Linked DNA regions of Homo sapiens. The protein of the gene in region 1 interacts with the protein of each later gene in a pairwise test. Each region holds a gene or a part of one and is shown on either strand. Other genes may lie near its edges.

The links.
Region 2: the proteins of ARMC10 (region 1) and FAM25C interact in a two-hybrid assay, tested with the Homo sapiens proteins (one large-scale study listed by BioGRID).
Region 3: the proteins of ARMC10 (region 1) and FAM25G interact in a two-hybrid assay, tested with the Homo sapiens proteins (one large-scale study listed by BioGRID).

The regions. Positions count from the first base shown.
Region 1 is NC_000007.14:103,088,631-103,092,275, reverse strand, and holds part of ARMC10 (armadillo repeat-containing protein 10), read right to left. Parts: exon of another isoform or gene 2,648-3,645; intron 1-2,647. UniProt on the Homo sapiens protein: May play a role in cell survival and cell growth. May suppress the transcriptional activity of p53/TP53.
Region 2 is NC_000010.11:47,996,970-48,001,116, forward strand, and holds the start of FAM25C (protein FAM25C), read right to left. Parts: upstream 2,823-4,147; 5' UTR 2,797-2,822; coding exon 2,724-2,796; intron 771-2,723; coding exon 708-770; intron 1-707.
Region 3 is NC_000010.11:47,488,892-47,493,235, forward strand, and holds the start of FAM25G (protein FAM25G), read right to left. Parts: upstream 2,810-4,344; 5' UTR 2,784-2,809; coding exon 2,711-2,783; intron 758-2,710; coding exon 695-757; intron 1-694.

The DNA.
Region 1 (3,645 bases):
CTGCAAGCTCCGCCTCCTGGGTTCACGCCATTCTCCTGCCTCAGCCTCCAGAGTAGCTGGGACTACAGGCGCCCGCCACCACGCCCGGCTAATTTTTTTGTATTTTTAGTAGAGACGGGGTTTCACCATGTTAGCCACGATGGTCTCGATCTCCTGACCTCGCGATCCGCCCGCCTCGGCCTCCCAAAATTCTGGGATTACAGGCGTGAGCCACTGTGCCCGGCCAAAATATGAAATTTCTATCTGGCCCTCAAAAGTTGTTGACTTTTTAAAAGCTTCCTTTGGTAATTCCAGGCACAGTGCTTAGCATTTTACAAATACTCCTCACTTAATCCTGAAGACAACTCTAATGAGTTGGGTGTTGTACTATTACGGCTATCTTGCAGACAAGGACTTTTAAGTCTTTAAAGAGCTCGGGTCCCCTGCCCAATGTCAGACAGCAGGTGGGGATGCAATAGCCAAGCCCAGAGATCATGCTGTTAACACCAGTGGCTTCTCCCTGGTTGGAGGCCTCCCATCTTAGTCCACCTTTCGGTTTCAACTGGTCTGCGGTCTGCGCACACTGGGATCAGGGAAGAAGATGTGAGGCCATTTTGTATCATAGTAATAAGTACCTTAGCAGTAGGGTCTAGAGAGCTACATCATTTCAGAAGTAAAGAATGGGAGGATAATGTGAAACAGAATCTTTCCCTAGAATTAATCCTATCAAAAGTAAGCAGAACAAAATTATACTTGGCCTAAGGTTCTTATTTACCTAGGTGTGTATATATATATATATATATATATAATTCACCCCTTCATAATATTGTTAACTATCACTGGTAAAAAGTAATGCAATGCTGTAGTACTCTTGTATCATACATGACACAACTAAACTCAGTGTGATGGAAACTTTTCTGAAACTCTACTTTCTGTGTCTGGCCATGAGCTTTCTTTTTTTCCGGGGGGACAAGGTCTCACTGCCGCACAGGCTGCAATGCCACCATGCCCAGCTAATTTTTGTATTCTTTGTAGAGACAGGGTTTCACCATGTTGCCCAGGCTGGTCTCAAACTCTTGAGCTCAAGTGATCTGCCTGCCTCAGCCTCCCAAAGTGCTGAGATTACAGGTGTGCACCACCATGTCCGGCCTGGCCATAAGCTTTCTAGCTTACAAAAATTATGTTTTACAGATAACTACTAATCACTTAAGCAAATCTGAACTCCACCAAAAGTTCTAACTGCTAAGAAAATTTTCCTAATTTGAAGTGGTAAGTTACCAATTGTCCCATAAACAATTATTAATTTAAAAAAAATCCCAAATGTATCCATGTTACCATAGAAACTAAATGGCAGTAAAGCAATGAGAGATTAAACTTTTAATCTGGTTTCAAGATCTAAATTACATTTATTTTTAGAGACAGGGTCTCACTCTGTCACCTAGGCTGGAGTGCAGTGGTGTGATAACAGCTCACTGCAGCCTCAAATTCCCCCTGTCTCAGACTCCTGAGTAGCTGGGATTACAGATGCATGCCACTATGCCCAGCTAATAAATTTTTTTTTTTTTTTTAGAAATGGGTTCTCACCCAAACTGGTCAACACGGTGAGACCCCATATCTATTAAAAATACAAAAAATTGCAAGCGTGGTGGTGGGCACCTGTAATCCCAGCTACTCAGGATGCTGAGGCAGGAGAATTGCTTGAACAGGAGGCAGGGGTTGCAGTGAGCTGAGGTTGCACCACTGCACTCCAGCATGGGCAACAAGAGTGAGACTCCGTCTCAAAACAAAAACAAACAAAAATAAAGAAATGGGGTCTCACTATGTTGCCCAGACTGGTCTTGAACTCTTGGCCTCCAGCAATCTCCTGTCGTGGCTCCCAAGTGTTGGGATTACAGGTGTGAGCCACCACGCCTGGCCCTAATTTACATTTGAAAGTCAACTGGTTCTCTTTGGTTACAATTTAATTATACATCCATCCTTTAAAAACATGGCATTTATTTAGCTCTTTATAAATCATATACTTCTGTAAGATGCTGATGTCTTTCAAGGCATTTCCTAAAATGTGTGGACTGTTTACATCCTTATTATATCTGAATCTTTTTACCATTTCAATTATAATAACAAGATTACCAAATGGACCAGCTTAGTTATTCCTGCAGCTGTGTCCACCTCATCTTGTTCTGTTCTCTTGGAATTCTCTCCTTCCCCAACTCTACCTGTAGGGTAACATTCTCAAGAGCCAGGTCAGACTCCACCTCTTACAGAAACTTTTGGATGAAATCTCTCCTTTCTATGTACTCAATCATGTTTTACTTACATTTTTCTTTAAAGGACTTCATTATGTTCTGCCTTGACTTACAATTATTTAAGGACTTGCCTTATCCTTCCTTCCACCTTTCTTAGAACAAGAGTTGCATCATGCTCATTTGTATACTCTGCACCACAAAGCAGGAGGTTTGATAAATATTGAATTGAAATAACATAATTTCCTAATATTGCATTTTTCTGCTGACATTATCTGACCCTGGCCTGGTTCCTTTAGCACCCTTAGATTAAACTGAACCCCAACTCCAAAAGTCTTGTTGGCTGCAAAAGTTAGAAGCAGCCTGGCCAGCCTCCTTCAGTGGAATATGAAGGAGCCCTTGCAGATTTTGATTCCCACTCTAGAGCTTTTATCTAGATGACCATGGCAACTGAACAAAAGCTGGTGAGAGCTGTTAGAGTGTTTGAATTTGGTAGACCAGAAGTCCTGAAACTCAGTCAGATGTTGCAGTACCAGTTCCAAAAGACCATTAGTTGTAATCAAGGTTCATGCGTGTGGTGTCAACCCCATGGAGACATACATTTACTCTGGTATTTATAATAGAAAACCACCTTATTCTATGCTCAGATGTAACTGGGGTAACGGAAGCTGTTGGAGGGAATGCATCTACTTTCAAGAAAAGTGACAGTTTTCACTACCGGCACAATCTCTGGGAGCAGATTACGCTGTTTACAAACTGCCTGAAAAACTGGACTTTAAACAAAATGCTGCCATTGGTATCCCATATCTTACTGCATATCGAGCTCTGATTCACAGTGTCTGTATGAAAGCTGGAGAGTGTTCTGGTTCATGGGGCTAGTGGAGGAGCTGCAGTAGCAACATGCCAAATTGCTAGAGTTTATGTCTTAAAGGTTTTGGGCACAGTTGGTACTGAGGGACAAAAAGACTTTTGCAAAATGGAGCCCACAAAGTGTTTAATTACAAAGAAGTTAACTATGTTGATAAAATTAAGAAATGTGTGATAAGAAAGGAATTGATGTGATTATTGAAATAATAGCTAATATAAATCTTAGTAAATATGCGAATTGTTTGTCATATGGAAGATAAGTAATAGGTGTTGGCAACAGTGGTACCATTGAAATAAACCCATGGGACACTATGGCAAAAGAGTCTAGTAAAATTGTCGTTACTCTATTTTCCTCAACCAAGGAGGAATCTCAGCAATTTGCAGCAGCCTGTCAAGCTGGAATGGAAATTGGTTGGCTGAAACCTGTAATAAGTTCTCACTATATGTTGGAGAGGTGGCCCAGGCTCATGAAAATATCTCTCACGGCAATGGGGCTACTGTAAAAATGATTCTTCTCTTTTGATGATTAATTCTTTCATGGATTTCAGAGGTTGTC
Region 2 (4,147 bases), on another chromosome or scaffold:
TACAGGTGCCCGCCACCGTGCCCAGCTAATTTTTTGTATTTTTAGTAGAGATGGGGTTTCACCGTGGTCTGGATCTCCTGACCTCATGATCCGCCCACCTCAGCCTCCCAAAGTGCTGGGATTACAGGCGTGAGCCACCGCCCCCAGCAATTTTTTTGAGACCGAGTTTCGCTCTGTAGCCCAGGCTGGAGTGCAGTGGCATGATCTAGGCTCACTGCAAGCTCTGCCTCCCAGGTACACACCATTCTCCTGCCTCAGCCTCCCAAGTAGCTGGGACTATAGGCACCCACCACCATGCCCGGCTAATTTTTATGTATTTTTAGTAGAGACGGGGTTTCACCGTGTTAGCCAGGATGGTCTCGATCTCCTGACCTCGTGATCCGCCCTCCTCAGCCTCCCAAAGTGCTGGGATTACAGGCATGAGCCACCGTGCCCTGCCATGTTAAATGTTTTGTCCCAGTGTGCTGTCACATAGTCTTGTGTGACTTTGTCTTCTTATTCCACAGAGAGAACCATCTAGACAGTGTCCTAACGCAGTACGGTCTGTGGCCTCTGATGAGCATAGATAACTGCCCCAGCCAAGAGGCTCTGAAAGGCTGCAACATTAGGGGCAGAGTTTGACCTGGTTAGTCAAAGAACAGGTTGGCCCAGCACCTAGCTTCCCTTCCTCCCTCCCTCCTTCCCTGCCCGACCTCAGCCGGCTGTACCTTTCTCTCCAGTCTCCTTGGCATGTCCCACCACCTCCTTCACCACTTCCTCCACGGCATGAACTGAACAGAGGAGACAAGTCCAGGGTGAGGGCTCAGAGCAGGCCGGCTGCCCCTGAGTCCAGGGTGAGGGTTCAGAGCAGAGCCGCTGCCCTCCCAGTCCAGGGTGAGGGCTCAGAGCAGGCCCACTGCCCTCCCAGTCCAGGGTGAGGGCTCAGGGCTGGCTTATCCTCACAACAGACCTATACATCCCTGGGCATCCTAGATGGGGCTCTGGGATGCCACCCCCAGCCAGGACAGACTGGCTCATGAGAAGGACCTTCCCCCACAGCTGGCTTCATTTGGAGACGCCAGGGCCTTGGCTACCGGGAGACGAGCTCAGTGAGCCCCATGAGGGCATGGGTCCCTGAAGCCCCTTGGCCCTGCCCGGCCTGGAATGGCAATGAGCAGGCAGTCTTGCCAGCTGAGACATGAAACCCAGGCTGGGCCTGTGTGCCAGGTCACACCCCTCTCAGGATGTGCTAGCGCCTGCCTCAGGTTGGTTTCCAAAGCCTCATCCACTAAGACCAGGTCTCTCAAAGCAATTCCTCCAACAAAACGGAATTCTCTGCCTACTTCAGAGTTTTTTAAAGTGTGGGTGGTAGTGTGCTAGAACTGAAGGATTTCAGAGTCAGAAGAAATGGTTCTTATTCTAACTCTACCTTCCACCTCTTGGTTCCCTCATCTTTAGAATGGGAATCTGTTGGGATGATGAGACCCAACACCAGGTCACGGGGGCGGCAAGTCCAGCGGAGTCAAAGGAATGAGAAAGAGACAGTTCGAGAGAGAAAATGGGAGCAGGGCGCTATCGCGAGTGTGGAGGCTGCGAAGGCCCCGAGTTCTGGGAGCCCACGCTATTTATTGGTGATCTAACAAAGAAACAGGTGGTGAGGATGTGGAGGTTGAAAGGCAACAGTGTATCAAGTGAATGAGAAACATATGGCTACTTGAGAGAATGGCAGTGCTAGAAGCAAGGAGCCAGCAAGTCTAGCAAGCCCTGCCTCAGCTTTTCTCCCAACACTCAGCTTTTCTCCCAACAGGAATCATAGAAAACTCAGAGGCTAGTGAAAGGTTAAAGCAGGTGGTCCACACCAGCTGCAGAGTCAAAAACAAAATACGCATCTGCTGCCATTTAGAAAGAGGACACAAACTCAGGCAAGACTTTTTCACACGATGACCCATGAGTGGGGCCTGGCTGGGCCTCCCCACACATACCTGCTGACCTCTGAATACAACATACACTTCGGGACCAGGTGCAGTGGTTCACGCCTGTAATCCCAGCACTTTGGGAGGCCAAGAGGAATGGATCACTTGAGGGCAGGAGTTTGAGACCAGCCTGGCCAAAATGGCGAAACCCCGTCTCTGCTAAAAATACAAAAATTAGTCGGGCGTGGTGGTGGGTGCCTGTAATCCCAGCTACTCAGGAGGCTGAGGCATGAGAATCACTTTGAACCCAGGAGGCAAAGGTTACAGTGAGCCGAGATCGCACCACTACACTCCAGCCTGGGTGCCAGAGCAAGACTCCATTTCAAATACAAATACAAATAAAAATAAACATGCTTTAGGGGACTTGGATGAAATTGAAAATGCCCTTTTTGACTTTGAACAGACTTGGTGACTTGTTAAGAAATCTTTGAAGCTTTAAAGTTATGGTAAAAATAAAAATCCATCTTCCTTTTCCTGCATAGGTTATTCAGAATAGGCTGTTTTGACAAGAAAGGCTCCCCAGATTTCCAGAGGGAAGGGTCCAAGCTGCCAGTGTTCACCCAGCACCAGGACTCATGCCCTGCCCCCAGGAGACCTCCCCAGGTCTGCACCCCTCAACTCCGTGCTGACTTGGTAGAGCAGGAGACCAGGGTTCCTGAGGGGCCAAGGCCTCCCCGCAGGTCCTCGCCTGCCTACGTAGATCCGCCTCCCACAGACCCAGTCTGCCCCAGATCCCCCCAGCCCAGGTAGAAAGGAGCCCCGGGTCCTCACTGGCTCCCTCGGTGGCCTTCTCGGTGCGGTGGGCCAGGCCCTCGGCAGCCAGCTTCCCCAGGCCTCCCAGCATCGTGTGGCAGCAGACAGTGGCGAACTAGGATGCTGAGGACTGGCCCAACATGCTTTTATAGCTGCCTCTGGTGTCTGTCTAGGCTCTGGGGCAATAAGCCCTCACCCCAGCCCAGTAGGAGGCTGGACAGGTGAGTCAGTGAGGGCGGCAGCAGGAAGGGGCTGGGCGGAGCCACCCTGGAACTAGGGTGGCAGCATCCCCTGACAGCATGAGGCTTCTGTAACCCTGTCCTAGGGACCCCGTGAAGGATAGGGGCAGGGAGCAGGGCTGGACAGTAGAGATCTGGACATGCTTCTTCCTTGAGGCAGAGGGCCTGAGTGCCAGCCCCCCTGAGACCAAAGCTTCCCAAGCCTGGGTACTGATATGTACCTGGAGACAAGGCCTAGGATTCCAAGCCTGCTGCTCAAGGTCCCCAGTGTGGCCTAGTAAGAGGTTTGGGGGTTCTATGGGCCTGGAGACCTGGGCAGTCCTTTGGGTCATGAACACAAGTGGAATGAGGGTGACTGCCCTCCCCATTCCTGGAGACCCTGGCTCTGCAGAGCAGTTTGCGGCCTCCATGGGACAGGGTGGGGCGTTCAGGGTGGTGCCTTGCCCGAGTCAGAGGGGGGCACAGCACTGGGCAGAAGCGTAGTCACCTGGTGTCACTCAGCTGATGCTCACTCACCCAAGAGGCTCTGTGAGGTCAGCAGTGCCCTCCTATCCCCTGGCAGTCCTGGAGGAGTAGACAGAGGCCTCCACCACCACTCAGGGAGATGCTTCTGGCCTTAGCTAGAATCCCCTAGGAAGCAGCTTCCCTGGCTCCTGGTGCATCGCATGAGGAGTGGCAGGGCTGCTCCCTAGTTACTCATGATGGACAGACATGCCTCAAGCCACCTGCCACATGCTGCTTCCCTTAGTCACCAGCCCAACCTGAGCCTCCGTTTCCTCATCTGTAAAATGGGCATAGCGTGTCTTCTTGGCTGTGTCCCTAATCATCCCTGAGACAAAGCATGCAAGCTCCTGGTAAACACCTGTTCCCTCCACTCATCATTGAGGTGCCCTTTGGCAGTGAGCTCTGACCAACTGGTAGGGTGTGCCAAGGAGTGACTGGGACGTGAGGCTGCCTTGGAGCCAGAGGGCTGGGGAATGTGACTTCTGCTGGCCAGGAGCCAAGGAGAGGTCTTCCCATGCTCCTACTTCTGGGGTGCAGGCCTGTGGCAGGGGTCTGAGGCTCTCTCCCCAATGCAGGCTCCTGGAGCTGCTCTCCTGGATGTGTCGGGGCCTGATTAGTTTACTGGACTGTGGGCCCTCCCAGCCTGGGACTCGGGAGCTGAGACCTTCTTGCATTCCTGCATGGTGTTTGCGGGCTCCA
Region 3 (4,344 bases), on another chromosome or scaffold:
TAATTTTTTGTATTTTTAGTAGAGATGCGGTTTCACCGTGGTCTGGATCTCCTGACCTCATGATCCGCCCACCTCAGCCTCCCAAAGTGCTGGGATTACAGGCGTGAGCCACCGCCCCCAGCAATTATTTTTTTCTTTTTTTTTGAGACCGAGTCTTGCTCTGTAGCCCAGGCTGGAGTGCAGTGGCATGATCTAGGCTCACTGCAAGCTCTGCCTCCCAGGTACACACCATTCTCCTGCCTCAGCCTCCCAAGTAGCTGGGACTATAGGCACCCACCACCATGCCCGGCTAATTTTTATGTATTTTTAGTAGAGACGGGGTTTCACCGTGTTAGCCAGGATGGTCTCGATCTCCTGACCTCATGATCCGCCCTCCTCAGCCTCCCAAAGTGCTGGGATTACAGGCATGAGCCACCGCACCCTGCCATGTTAAATGTTTTGTCCCAGTGTGCTGTCACATAGTCTTGTGTGACTTTGTCTTCTTATTCCACAGAGAGAACCATCTAGACAGTGTCCTAACGCAGTACAGTCTGTGGCCTCTGATGAGCATAGATAACTGCCCCAGCCAAGAGGCTCTGAAAGGCTGCAACATTAGGGGCAGAGTTTGACCTGGTTAGTCAAAGAACAGGTTGGCCCAGCACCTAGCTTCCCTTCCTCCCTCCCTCCTTCCCTGCCCGACCTCAGCCGGCTGTACCTTTCTCTCCAGTCTCCTTGGCATGTCCCACCACCTCCTTCACCACTTCCTCCACGGCATGAACTGAACAGAGGAGACAAGTCCAGGGTGAGGGCTCAGAGCAGGCCGGCTGCCCCCGAGTCCAGGGTGAGGGTTCAGAGCAGAGCCGCTGCCCTCCCAGTCCAGGGTGAGGGCTCAGAGCAGGCCCACTGCCCTCCCAGTCCAGGGTGAGGGCTCAGGGCTGGCTTATCCTCACAACAGACCTATACATCCCTGGGCATCCTAGATGGGGCTCTGGGGTGCCACCCCCAGCCAGGACAGACTGACTCATGAGAAGGACCTTCCCCCACAGCTGGCTTCATTTGGAGACGCCAGGGCCTTGGCTGCTGGGAGACGAGCTCAATGAGCCCCATGAGGGCATGGGTCCCTGAAGCCCCTTGGCCCTGCCCGGCCTGGAATGGCAATGAGCAGGCAGTCTTGCCAGCTGAGACATGAAGCCCAGGCTGGGCCTGTGTGCCAGGTCACACCCCTCTCAGGATGTGCTAGCGCCTGCCTCAGGTTGGTTTCCAAAGCCTCATCCACTAAGACCAGGTCTCTCAAAGCAATTCCTCCAACAAAACGGAATTCTCTGCCTACTTCAGAGTTTTTTAAAGTGTGGGTGGTAGCGTGCTAGAACTGAAGGATTTCAGAGTCAGAAGAAATGGTTCTTATTCTAACTCTACCTTCCACCTCTTGGTTCCCTCATCTTTAGAATGGGAATCTGTTGGGATGATGAGACCCAACACCAGGTCACGGGGGCGGCAAGTCCAGCGGAGTCAAAGGAATGACAAAGAGACAGTTCGAGAGAGAAAATGGGAGCAGGGCGCTATCGCGAGTGTGGAGGCTGCGAAGGCCCCGAGTTCTGGGAGCCCACGCTATTTATTGGTGATCTAACAAAGAAACAGGTGGTGAGGATGTGGAGGTTGAAAGGAAACAGTGTATCAAGTGAATGAGAAACATATGGCTACTTGAGAGAATGGCAGTGCTAGAAGCAAGGAGCCAGCAAGTCTAGCAAGCCCTGCCTCAGCTTTTCTCCCAACGCTGAGCTTTTCTCCCAACAGGAATCATAAAAAACTCAGAGGCTAGTGAAAGGTTAAAGCAGGTGGTCCACACCAGCTGCAGAGTCAAAAACAAAATACGCATCTGCTGCCATTTAGAAAGAGGACACAAACTCAGGCAAGACTTTTTCACACGATGACCCATGAGTGGGGCCTGGCTGGGCCTCCCCACACATACCTGCTGACCTCTGAATACAACATACACTTCGGGACCAGGTGCAGTGGTTCACGCCTGTAATCCCAGCACTTTGGGAGGCCAAGAGGAATGGATCACTTGAGGTCAGGAGTTTGAGACCAGCCTGGCCAAAATGGCGAAACCCCGTCTCTGCTAAAAATACAAAAATTAGTCGGGCGTGGTGGTGGGTGCCTGTAATCCCAGCTACTCAGGAGGCTGAGGCATGAGAATCACTTTGAACCCAGGAGGCAAAGGTTACAGTGAGCCGAGATCGCACCACTACACTCCAGCCTGGGTGCCAGAGCAAGACTCCATTTCAAATACAAATACAAATAAAAATAAACATGCTTTAGGGGACTTGGATGAAATTGAAAATGCCCTTTTTGACTTTGAACAGACTTGGTGACTTGTTAAGAAATCTTTGAAGCTTTAAAGTTATGGTAAAAATAAAAATCCATCTTCCTTTTCCTGCATAGGTTATTCAGAATAGGCTGTTTTGACAAGAAAGGCTCCCCAGATTTCCAGAGGGAAGGGTCCAAGCTGCCAGTGTTCACCCAGCACCAGGACTCATGCCCTGCCCCCAGGAGACCTCCCCAGGTCTGCACCCCTCAACTCCGTGCTGACTTGGTAGAGCAGGAGACCAGGGTTCCTGAGGGGCCAAGGCCTCCCCGCAGGTCCTCGCCTGCCTACGTAGATCCGCCTCCCACAGACCCAGTCTGCCCCAGATCCCCCCAGCCCAGGTAGAAAGGAGCCCTGGGTCCTCACTGGCTCCCTCGGTGGCCTTCTCGGTGCGGTGGGCCAGGCCCTCGGCAGCCAGCTTCCCCAGGCCTCCCAGCATCGTGTGGCAGCAGACAGTGGCGAACTAGGATGCTGAGGACTGGCCCAACATGCTTTTATAGCTGCCTCTGGTGCCTATCTAGGCTCTGGGGCAATAAGCCCTCACCCCAGCCCAGTAGGAGGCTGGACAGGTGAGTCAGTGAGGGCGGCAGCAGGAAGGGGCTGGGCGGAGCCACCCTGGAACTAGGGTGGCAGCATCCCCTGACAGCATGAGGCTTCTGTAACCCTGTCCTAGGGACCCCGTGAAGGATAGGGGCAGGGAGCAGGGCTGGACAGTAGAGATCTGGACATGCTTCTTCCTTGAGGCAGAGGGCCTGAGTGCCAGCCCCCCTGAGACCAAAGCTTCCCAAGCCTGGGTACTGATATGTACCTGGAGACAAGGCCTAGGATTCCAAGCCTGCTGCTCAAGGTCCCCAGTGTGGCCTAGTAAGAGGTTTGGGGGTTCTATGGGCCTGGAGACCTGGGCAGTCCTTTGAGTCATGAACACAAGTGGAATGAGGGTGACTGCCCTCCCCATTCCTGGAGACCCTGGCTCTGCAGAGCAGTTTGCGGCCTCCATGGGACAGGGTGGGGCGTTCAGGGTGGTGCCTTGCCCGAGTCAGAGGGGGGCACAGCACTGGGCAGAAGCGTAGTCACCTGGTGTCGCTCAGCTGATGCTCACTCACCCAAGAGGCTCTGTGAGGTCAGCAGTGCCCTCCTATCCCCTGGCAGTCCTGGAGGAGTAGACAGAGGCCTCCACCACCACTCAGGGAGATGCTTCTGGCCTTAGCTAGAATCCCCTAGGAAGCAGCTTCCCTGGCTCCTGGTGCATCGCATGAGGAGTGGCAGGGCTGCTCCCTAGTTACTCATGATGGACAGACATGCCTCAAGCCACCTGCCACATGCTGCTTCCCTTAGTCACCAGCCCAACCTGAGCCTCCGTTTCCTCATCTGTAAAATGGGCATAGCGTGCCTTCTTGGCTGTGTCCCTAATCATCCCTGAGGCAAAGCATGCAAGCTCCTGGTAAACACCTGTTCCCTCCACTCATCATTGAGGTGCCCTTTGGCAGTGAGCTCTGACCAACTGGTAGGGTGTGCCAAGGAGTGACTGGGACGTGAGGCTGCCTTGGAGCCAGAGGGCTGGGGAATGTGACTTCTGCTGGCCAGGAGCCAAGGAGAGGTCTTCCCATGCTCCTACTTCTGGGGTGCAGGCCTGTGGCAGGGGTCTGAGGCTCTCTCCCCAATGCAGGCTCCTGGAGCTGCTCTCCTGGATGTGTCGGGGCCTGATTAGTTTACTGGACTGTGGGCCCTCCCAGCCTGGGACTCGGGAGCTGAGACCCTCTTGCATTCCTGCATGGTGTTTGCGGGCTCCAGGGCTACGGCCAGTCCCCCTAGGGTGGACAGTGGGTATCGTGGGCAGCAGGACCTCTGGGTCTCAAGACTGTGGCCCCACACATGCCATTGCTGTCTCCTTTGGGCAGGGGTGAATCGGGGCTTCAACAATTTAGAGGGGCCTCTTTATGAAAAAGAATACAATAATATGATTCTTGCACATTTTTCATTTATATACGTATGAACTTCTG